Linked DNA regions of Homo sapiens: region 2 is linked to region 1. Evidence: fine-mapped expression QTL. Tissue or cell type: whole blood. Region 1 holds a variant in brackets; the other region holds the start of a gene. All regions are shown on one strand. Distances are from middle to middle. Region 1 overlaps CACNA1E (calcium voltage-gated channel subunit alpha1 E). Region 2 holds the start of CACNA1E (calcium voltage-gated channel subunit alpha1 E).

Region 1 (5,370 bases):
TACATAGACCTCCCAGCACTCAGAGCCTTGGAATCTTGCCATGGTGGTACATGTGTGTGTTGGGGGTAATTAGGGAGGAAGGGGTGAGGCTGAGCTAGGATGACTAGTTAGGACACCATCTTTACTGTCTAGAATATACTGAGGGCTGTGACCTGGGCTGTGTCAGTGGGACCAGAGGAGGGGACAGATACAAAAAATACTTAGGGGTCTTTAAACTTGGGGGATGAGAGGGAAGAATCCAAGATGAATCCCAAGTGTAGGGGAGGGTGGCTTTTTTCACCCTGGATGAGGAGCAGTCTGGTATGGAGAGGGGATGAGGGTGGCTCTGGCTTTGGCGGTTGGGTGTGTCTTTTGGACTGGGTGTGGTGCCCTATAGAAAGGCTGGAGCTTGGGACAGGTCTGTGTGGACACCTCGATTCATCACTGCATGGTTGGTAGTTGAAACCATAGACATGGGTCAGATTGTCCCAGTGAAATGGCAGAGAAGAGGGCAAGGACAGACTCCAAGAGGCCCTGAATCAAATGGGTATGGAAAATATGGAGGGCCTGGGATGGAGGCTGAGAGGGAGCTGGCAGGAGGGGTGGGGGCAGATTGGTTGAGACCATTAGCAGGGAAATGAGGGAGAAAGAGTTTCCAGAAGGGAATGGTTACCAGGTTCAAATGTGAGGGAGGAATTCACTGCTGGCATTTGTTTGAGAAGCCCTGACCTTTTTCTGTTCCCTTGCTAGAAATAAATGCTTTTTTTTTTTGGTAGCAGACAGTAATGTACTGGAATGGAATCATGATTGTTCCGTGTCTCAGAATCCATATGTAAAGTCCCTTGTCAGATAGCAGGGAAACAGTCATCTTTGGGCAGTTTGTACTGAGAGGGAGGGGAGGCCGAGTGTAAAGGATCGGTGCCTTAATTTTAGCAAGGCTCTGAGCCCCTTGGAAGGCAAGCTTTATTTCTACATAGATTGAAAGTATTATTATTATTACATCCTTACGCTGTATCAGCGCCAAACACTGGAGTCCTCAATACTGTATTTATTTCTCTGGGCTTTTGGAGGGGTGGGGAAGAAACGGGACATTTAGGTTGCTAAGTGATTGTGCTTGCTTCTAAAAATAATGAGATTCCCCAGTGGCTCGTTCTCCTGTGTTTTGCTTAGAGTTAGAGGATGCCAAGGTCAAGTTATAGATGACAGGCTGTGTCTCCAGGTGGTGTCAGGGCATCCTGTTGGGGAAGGACAAGGTAAACTCTCCCTCTCTGGTCCTCCCACCTGCATCCCCTTAGGGCCCACTACTTTGGGAAATTGCAGGAAAAACTGGGCCTCCCCCTGCTTGGATTGAAGAGCCTCGCCTAGGCAGTCAGACTCAGTGGTTGCCATGGTGATGGTGGGTGGTTGGTGGGGTGGTGATGCAGCGTTTGGCCTGTGCAGCTGAGGTCCTCAATGCAGGCTGCTTGGAGCCCAGGCTGCTGAAGCTTTTGACAGTTTGTTTAGGATTCCAGAGGGTCACTTGCTGCGGTGTTGAAATCTTCAGACAGACCCGCCAGCTCAGCCAGCTGAAACCTTCATTGTTGAATATGCATCTCACAGGCCAAATTTTGGCAGGCGCTCATGGGATTAGGAGCTCCACAGCAACCTTGGTGGGGGAAGGGGTGTGCGAAAAAGCTCTGTGCAGGGGAGAGTGGCTGGGATAATAGACTCTGAGGACAACAGAAGGCCAGAGGCCCTTCAGATCGTCCAGTTCATCAACACCTTCAACAACATCCCTGACAGCTGGTCACCAAGCTTCTGCTTGGACTCTCCTTGTGATGGGGAGCTCACTACCGGGCAAGGCACACCACTCCATTGTTGAATAGGTTTTACATTTTCTCCTCTCTCCCTCACTTCTTTCGTTCCTCCCTCATTCTCTCCATCTTTCCTTCCCCCCTCCTTTCCTTGCATCCTTTCATTTTTTTGGCAAAATTCTGGCCCCTTCTAATTTGATTCACTGACTCAAGTTATGCCAAGAAGGAAAGCAGTGTAAGCTTTCATCAAAGTGACAACCACTTGCCACCCAACAAAACATTCATACTTTTCTCAGCTACTTCTGACATTATTTCAAGACCCCTTGTTATTTCCCCATCCCCTATATTTCTCCATATTGCTCTTAAAATATAACACCCAGAATGAACCACAGTACTCGACTGGTCTGACCAATGCAGAGGACTTTAGGGTGACACCCATGTTTGTGAACAGTCTGAGATGATTTTGTAGCCCCCTCCTCACACCCTTGGCTGATAC[A/G]AAGGCTGTGATTCTCTGTCGTTCCCAGATCTTTTACATATGAGCAGCTGATGCTGGGCTCTACATTTGTACTTTTTTGATTTTGTCATCTAAGCTGTTGAGAAACACGTTGAAATGGACAGAAATGATGATGGAATGCCGTGGCAAAACTCTAGAGGCCTCCCTGCAGGTGGAAATTATAATAGTATTCATAGCTTTTTTTTTCTGTTTTTATATCCAACTATCTACTTGTCTAACCAATTAATCACTGATCTTTTTTTTTTTCCTTAGAGTGTTCCATTCCATTGTATGGATGTGCTACAGTTTGTTTATTTATTCAGCAATGGAAGGACATTTGATGTTTTCCAGTTTGGGGTGATTATGAATAAAGCTGCTCTAAACATTTTTTAAAATCATTATATATTTATTATTTTACTTTAAGTTCTGGGATACATGTGCAGAACGTGCAGGTTTGTTACATAGGTATACGTGTGCCATGGTGGCTTGCTGCACCTATTGACCCATCCTCTAAATTCCCTCCCCTCGCCCCCACCCCCTAACAGGCCCCTTTGCAGGGACATGGATATTTTGGTGTTATTTCTGAGGTCTCTGTTCTGTTCCATTGGTCTGTATATCTGTTTCGATACCCAGTACCATGGTGTTTCGGTTACTGTAGCCTTGTAGTATAGTTTGAAATCAGGTAGCATGATGCCTCCAGCTTTGTTCTTTTTGCTTAGGATTGTCTTGGCTATACAGGGTCTTCTTTAATTCCATATGAAATTTAAAGTAGTTTTTTTCTAATTCTGTGAAGAATGTCAATGGTATAGCATTGGGAATAGCATTGAATCTAGAAATTACTTTGGGCAGTATGGCCATTTTTACGATATTGATTCTTCCTATCCATGAAGATGGAATGTTTTTTCCATTTGTTCGTGTACTTTCTTATTTCCTTGAGCAGTGGTTTGTAGTTCTCCTTGAAGAGGTCCTTCACATCCCTTGTTAGCTGTATTCCTAGGTATCTTATTCTTTTTGTAGCGATTGTGAATTGGGAGTTCATTCATGATTCGGCTCTCTGCTTGTCTATTATTGGTGTATAGGAATGCTTGTGATTTTTGCACATTGATTTTGTATTCTGAGACTTTACTGAAGTTGCTTATCAGTTTAAGGAGTTTTTGGGCTGCGATGATGGGGTTTTCTAAATATACAATTATGTCATCTGCAAACAGAGACAACTTGGCTTCCTCTCTTCCTATGTGAATACCCTTTATTTCTTTCTCTTGCCTGATTGCCCTGGCCAGAACTTCCAATACTATGTTGAATAGGAGTAGTGAGAGAGAGCATCCTTGTCTCGTGCCAGTTTTCAAAGGGAATGCTTCCAGTTTTTGCCCATTCAGTGTGATATTGGCTATGGGTTTGACATAAATAGCTCTTATTATTTTGAGATGCGTTCCATCAATACCTAGTTTATTGAGAGTTTTTAGCATGAAGGGATGTAGAATTTATCAAAGGCCTTTTCTGCATCTATTGAGATAATCATGTGGTTTTTGTCATTGGTTCTGTTTTTGTGATGGATTATGTTTATTCATTTGCGTATGTTGAACCAGCCTGGCATCCCAGGGATAAAGCCGACTTGATCGTGGTGGATAAGTTTTTTGATATAGTCACTGGTATTTTGAGGTGATTGCTATCATTATCATGATCTTACTAATAAGAAAGCAGAGCCACAGAGAGGTAAAATAAGTTGCTCAAGGTCACACAGGCTCTAAATAGCAAAGTCAGTATTTGAATTTAGTGTTTTTTGTTGAGCTAGGGTTTCACTCTGTCATGCAGGCTGGAGTGCAGTGGTGAGATCACAGCCCACTGCAGCCTTGACCTCCTGGACTCCAGGGATCCACCCCAGCCTCCCTAGTAGCTGGGAATACAGGCACATTCCACTATGCCCAGCTAATTTTTTTAGTTTTATTTCTTGTATAGATGAGGTTTTGCCATGTTGCCCAGGCTGGTCTCGAACTCCTGAGCTCAAGTGATCCTCTCACCTCCGCTTCCCAAAGTGCTTGGGATTAAAGATGTGAGCCACTGCGCCCAGCCTGAATTTAGTTGTTATTCAGTAATCCATATAATTTGGGAATGATTGTTCAAATGGCACAGACTCTGACAGGGGTTCAATCTACCATTGTGTCAGTGTAGCAGATGAGATTTTTGTCAAGGGGCTTGCTGAAATCCAGGGTACCATATCTTTAGCATTTTCCTAGTCTGTTTGTCCAATAACCCTGTTTAAAAAAAGAAACAAGATTAGCTTGGATCGGTTTATTCCAAGAAATCTCATGCTAATTCCTAATAATAAGAAACAATGCCAATAGTGATACTAATGGTCCTCACATTTGCTGAGTCCCAGCCTGTGCCAGGCACTGAGCTAAGCTTGTCCCATGCACTGTTTGATCATCCTGCTTTCTCGTTGCTCACACACTGTGTACTGACGTACGGCTGAATTCTCCTGGGATTGACAATGAGCTTACTGGTTATCACTGTAGAGTCTTCTGTTTGGAATCAAGACATTTGCTCAGGTTTTAAGGCCTCTGTTTTTATCCCCAGTTTCTCACAAGCTGCTTGTTTGGATGTCTTATCAGTGCTGGATCTAAGTGAGCATTTAATTTGGAGCTGCAGGCTGGGTTCAAGTCTGGCTCTATGACAGCTTTTTATCAATGAGACCAACAGCAAATCACTCAACCTTGAGCTTTGGTCTTCTCCTCTTCCAAATGGAGATTATAATCCCTATGCAGAGTATTTCCACAGATGCTGAGATGCTCATACAGGAGAATGTTTGTGTAAAAGTGCTTCTCAGACTTCAGTTGCAGACACACTTGAGCCATTTTTGTTATTTAAAATGGTTAAGTGTTCCTACTAGTATTATCTCCTATCCAAGTTTCACTTTTAACAGAATTTATCCTCCCCCTTTTAGATTTTTAAAAAATATTCATAAGACACTCAGAGGTATGACTGAATGTTGGTCACTAGACCCAGAAAGGGGTATACCTACCAGCTCTTGCCCACTGAGTTGTGCTTGAGGTGGAAGAAACAGAATTGCAGACTCCAGGAGGAAAAGGTATGCTTCTAGAGGTCTTT
Region 2 (5,370 bases), 69 kb before region 1:
TTGAGAAGGTATGCCGCCAGCCTGCTGAGGCAGAACCACAAAGGAAAGGGGTGAGGTGACAGCATGAGAGTGAAGTTCATGAAGCTTTCTGGCCTGCAAGGTTATACAATCTAGTATAATCTAGTGTAAAAAGCTACATGATTTATGTCATCACCCATCTTGTTCATTATAGTATCCTCAGTGCCTAAAACAGTGCCTGGCACCTGGAAGGGACTCAAAGATACTTCTCTAATGATTTGAATGAATTTTGTGCTATGGATTATGGTACTGTCTGAAAGGAGCGACATACACTTAATAATTTCTGAAAGCCCTTTTTCTAACCCTATGTAGTTTACAGGGATACCGAGATAGCCACTTGGGACTAGTTCTAAGTGACTGGCTGATGGGACTTCATGGTTCACAGCACCACCCTCCCTCCGTTTCACGACTGACTAGGTATTCAGACAGAAGAGGACCCTCTGATTAAAGCAGGAGGAAGGACAGAGTAAGGCAGTAATGTGAAATCAAAGTAACAATTACAGCTGACTCACCTTGAATAGTAATTTCACCTGAAATGGGCTCCCCTGAATCCAAAGGTCAAATGCCTTCCCCAAGGGCAGCAGGCTGGACATGTTGAGACCATTCCTTTGGATTTCCAGTAGAGAATTTTCCTACACACACACACACACACACACACACACACACACACTCTCACATACATTCTCACACAACAGACACATGTCAGTGCTCACAGGGCCTTGCCCACAGACAGACACATACCCGTAGAAACACACATGCCATGCACTCAGACATCACCTCACTTCTCAACAGTTAATCTCACTTCACAGGCGTGAAGCCATACTCACCCATGGTTTCCAACCTCTGGGCTTTGGTCAGTGTCTGTTTCCTTCCTCAGCCCCTCCTTTCCTTCTTCCCTTCCATTGTTCGGGTTGGAAGGATTTGGAGAGGCCTATGTGTTGAGCCAAGGCAGGAAAACACAGAAGACGGTGTGCCCCAGCTAGTGTGGACATGGGAGGGGACAGCTGGTCCCTGCCCTCAGTTCAAACCACCAGTCACCTGTGGGGAAGGGCTTGGCGGCTAAACAGGAGCTCTTTCCCTGGGGCTTGGAGTCCACCTTTCCCACCTCTGCAGCTCAGATACCAATTCTATTTTTTTTTTTTTCTACATTAATGGGTTGGGTTTGAGAAAGTCCGTGGAGCTTATTTGGGAGTAAAGGATGGGGGGCGGGAGGATCCTTCTGATTGTTCGCATTTCGAGAAGGGTAGTTTTAGCCCATAACTCACCATGGAGGGCCCTTCCAGGAGACGTCGGGCAGGGCTTTCCTACAGCGGAACCGGGAGGCCGCCCCGTGAGGGCAGAAGCTCCCGCCAGGAGCCAGCACCACCAGCAGAGTGTGGAACCCCCAGAGGTCCTAGCCTCCTCCACGGGGCCTCCCAGGTGCTAAGTGGGGAGATGGGGAGAGGGTTCTGCCCTCTACTTGGAAATGCCTGGCCGTGTTCGTGGAGCCTGGGAGGTGCGGAGGAGCGGCGACGCGGCCATGGCGCTAGGCGCGCAAAGGCCCCGACACCTTACTAGGGCGGCGGCGGGCCCGTGGCACCGCTCCCGGCACCGAACAGGGCACAGCACTGGGGACACCTCTCTGCAGGGACCCAAGACGCGCGTGCGTGTGCGCCCCACGCCAGGCCCTCGCTCTCTTGCGGAGACTCCGCCGCATCGCTGGCTGCACCTGCCTCTCTCTTCTCGGCATTACTTGGGGGAAAGGGGACTCTTCACTGGACCTTTGCAGAGGTGGCTGCTACCCTTTGGCCACATAAATCAAGAAGGCAAGCCAGCCTCACCTTCCAGGAACCTCCAGCCTTCCGGCTGCGTCCCCGCCCCTCCCGCCTGGCCAGCTCCTCCCCCGCTTCTCCCAGCGCTCTTGCGCGCCTCGCTGCGCCTCTGCGCGCCGCTCGCTGTCCTCTGCCTCGCCTCCCCATTCTCCTTCCGCATCTTCTCCAGTGCTCCGCCGAGGGCGCTGCCTGCGGGGAAGAGGGAGACTGAGCCGTTAGTGAGGAAGTTCGGTCTGTGGACAAGTGTGGTGCCAGGCCGCCGCGAGGCTCGGCTGCAACCTGTTCCTCGCCCGCCGGTGCTCGCCGCCCGCCCGCTCGCACTCCCGCCCTCTCGGCGGCGCAGCCGCGGATCGCTGTTGCATGCTGATCCGGGGAGGCGGCGGTGGCGAGCGCTCCGGGCGGATGCTGGCACTCAGGCTTCGCTGCTCTCTGGATGCTGCTCAACTTCTAGCCCAAGCGCAGGAGCTTTGAAGTCATTTGTCCCTTTTCGCTTGGATCGACTTCTTATTTTGAGATTTTGGGCATTGCGGTTTACGCAGGAACCTCAATATCGCTCTCCCCACCTCCCTCCCTCTTTCTCCAACCTTTGGATGCGTCTCTGCTGGCAGATATAAAGACCCAAGTCTTCGCGGTGGAATTTCTTAGATGGACTTGCAGGGGCTGGCGTTATAAAGCATGTCATCGTAACCCCGTCCTCGTCTTTGTTTATTTTTTTTTAAAGTTCTTTTGTTTTCATTTTCCCCTCCTTCCCACCCCTTCCCCCAACCAATAAATCACCAAACTGTTACCTAGCGGGCCGGTGCCTGCCTCTCTCCCTGAACTAGGTGGTGCGTCTGCCAGAAGAGGAGCTATGTTTGAAGAGCAGCCTACTCCACCCCTCTCCTCTCTGGTCCCTGAACACCACCACACACTGGCATTTTGAAAAAAATATTTTCCTCCAGAAACTGGGCACCCCCAAGCCCTACCACCCGCTTTTTTTTTCTTTTTTCTTTTTTTTTTTTTTCCTTCTTGAGGAATGGAGCTTCGCAGAGGTTGCATTTAGATTCAACAGTTCACAGCGGCGGGCTGCTGCTGCTGCCTCTCCGAAGAGCTCGCGGAGCTCCCCAGAGGCGGTGGTCCCCGTGCTTGTCTGGATGCGGCTCTGAGTCTCCGTGTGTCTTTCTGCTTGTTGCTGTGTGCGGGTGTTCGGCCGCGATCACCTTTGTGTGTCTTCTGTCTGTTTAAACCTCAGGATGGCTCGCTTCGGGGAGGCGGTGGTCGCCAGGCCAGGGTCCGGCGATGGAGACTCGGACCAGAGCAGGAACCGGCAAGGAACCCCCGTGCCGGCCTCGGGGCAGGCGGCCGCCTACAAGCAGACGAAAGCACAGAGGGCGCGGACTATGGCTTTGTACAACCCCATTCCCGTCCGGCAGAACTGTTTCACCGTCAACAGATCCCTGTTCATCTTCGGAGAAGATAACATTGTCAGGAAATATGCCAAGAAGCTCATCGATTGGCCATATCCTTTCTTGCCCACCATAACTCCCTCTCCCCCTTTGCATTTCTTCGGGTGAAGGGGGGTACCTAGCATGGAATGTATCCCCCACCCCTTCCTGGTGCCAATTTGCCCCTTTGCTGAAGCACACTCTTCGGTGCATCTAAGGGGCAAGCTTGGTGCCGTGGAGACCCGTTTGGGCACTAGTGTTTTTCAAGGTAAGACTTTTGGTTTTTTATTTTTCCTATGTGGAAATCTTTAGTGTCCCTGGGTGCATCCCTTTCTGGGCTGGGCTTTGTCTGATTCCCAGCCCCCTCCCCACCCCTACTCCCTTCACATGCCGCCCTCTACATAGATTGGGTTGCCCCAATGCTTCCTTTCATAATTAATTCTCATTTTCCTTTCTTTAAGCCAGCCACTCTGCCCGTATCCCCACCAACCAGGAGACACCGCACTGTCTTCCTGTAGGGAAGTCAAGGCTCCATGAGGGGATTTATCAGTTCAGAAGTTCCCAGGGCCAAAACCCTGTGTACAGATAGACAAATGAATAAATAAAACAGGCTTTTGGGTGGGGACTCAGCTAACTCTAGGGACTTAAGTTTAAGTTCCACTGAAAGTGGCATGAGTGAGTGTCTGTCAGGGGAGGTGATCTCTGTTGCCACAGCCCAAGGAGCTCAAACTTGGAGTTCTCCTCTCAGCCAAGAAAGAGCAGCTCATCAGGCCCATCCTGTCCTTGGTCCTTGGTTGGGTACTCTTGCTTCTTAGTGCTTGACCCAGCTGATTGCTCTCCCAGTATCCAGGATCCAGGTGGATCGGCTGGGCCTGAATTCATCCGCTGAGGCCAGAGGTGTGCATGCAGTCTCTCTCTCCCTAGCTCCAAAGGAACTGCTCTCCCCAAAGCACTGGTGGGGGCCATCTCTGATGGTGGTGGTGTCAGGGTGAACAGGCATGGAAGGAGCTTCTTTGCAGGTTTAATCAAGTGCACCAAATGCAGACTGCTGATTAGGCAGCTCACTGCCTTGTTCTTCACTAAGGATTGGACGCCTGGCAAGGCCATTGGGAATTGGGGGTGGTGAGGCAGTGAAGGGGATTAGTAGGAGGCAAGCTAGTGGTCTGGCGTTAAATATGGGGATGGGGTTGGAGACATGGGACTTTGGGAGGGAGATTTGGGAGGGATGCATCTGCAATGGAGGCCCCTTCTTTTCTCCCCTATTCTCCCTCTTTCCCACCCCCACCGTCCAGGTGTGCAGCAGTGAGGCAGCTGGAGCTGCCTTGGGTCTCTAGTATTAGCCAGACACGCGGCTCATTTCCCCCAGGGCCTGGGCATCTCCCTACTCCCCCAACCCCAGTCTCTGGCCTTCCCCTTCTTCTCTAGTTCCCTGCCTCAGCAGCTCGGTGATTGGCTGGCGCGTGGTGCTTCTAGGCAGCACCCCCTCATTAGAAACGAAGGAGCATCTCTAAGCAGATATTCTTCCTGCTGCTGTTCGCATCCTCCCACAGCAACCCCGGCTGGGCTTCTCCCTCTCTCCTCTCTGCATCCCGCTCCCCTGCTCCACTCTCACAGAGTGATCCCAGGCCATCCATTGCCTGAGTTGAACGTATCTAGCTAGGGTGGAGGTTTCGGGCGGGGGAGGGGTCGGGTCCCTGCAGTCACGCCTGCCGGTGCGCTGCACAAAGCGGACAGATCTCATTGTGTTGTGTGCTGCGGCTGCAAATATTCCTCTAGGCAGTCTACGGATTTCCCAGCTGGGCCCTCCTTTCTCACTCGGCTTCTACGGTTCTCTAAATCTTCCCATCCACCAGGTGCTGCCTTGCTGTGCCCCTCTCTTAGGGGCGTGTTTATTCAGACAGGCGCCCTCCCGTTTCTTTGCGGTAGACAAAGCCGCCCAACCGCCCCGCGGGTGGCAAAGTGTGCCAGCAGCCATCGTTGGCACCTCGGACAGCGCCGCTGAAACTCCCGGCGGCCCGGGGCTCCCCAGTTACCCGGGTTCAGCACCTCGGGTACTTCTGGCCGGGCCCAGCCTTGGAGCTGAGAAACCAGGCACGTTTCCTACACCACGTGGTCAC

Evidence for each region. PIP is the estimated chance that this variant, and not a neighbour inherited with it, causes the effect.
Region 2: CACNA1E starts here. The variant in region 1 is fine-mapped to the expression of CACNA1E in whole blood (TOPMed, PIP above 0.99).

The regions. Positions count from the first base shown.
Region 1 is chr1:181,549,979-181,555,348 of GRCh38, forward strand. All of the region lies in intron 3 of CACNA1E (calcium voltage-gated channel subunit alpha1 E), which reads left to right. Among named protein-coding and RNA genes, the nearest start is that of CACNA1E, 69 kb to the left of the region's middle. The variant A/G (reference allele first, on the strand shown) is at 2,269.
Region 2 is chr1:181,480,684-181,486,053 of GRCh38, forward strand. It overlaps CACNA1E (calcium voltage-gated channel subunit alpha1 E), which reads left to right and starts at 2,834. Exons shown (of 48, transcript NM_001205293.3): 1 at 2,834-3,327. The coding sequence starts at 3,062. RefSeq lists enhancers at 1,025-1,557, 1,609-1,738, 2,541-3,065, 3,066-3,589, 4,552-4,681 and silencers at 1,889-2,018, 2,059-2,188.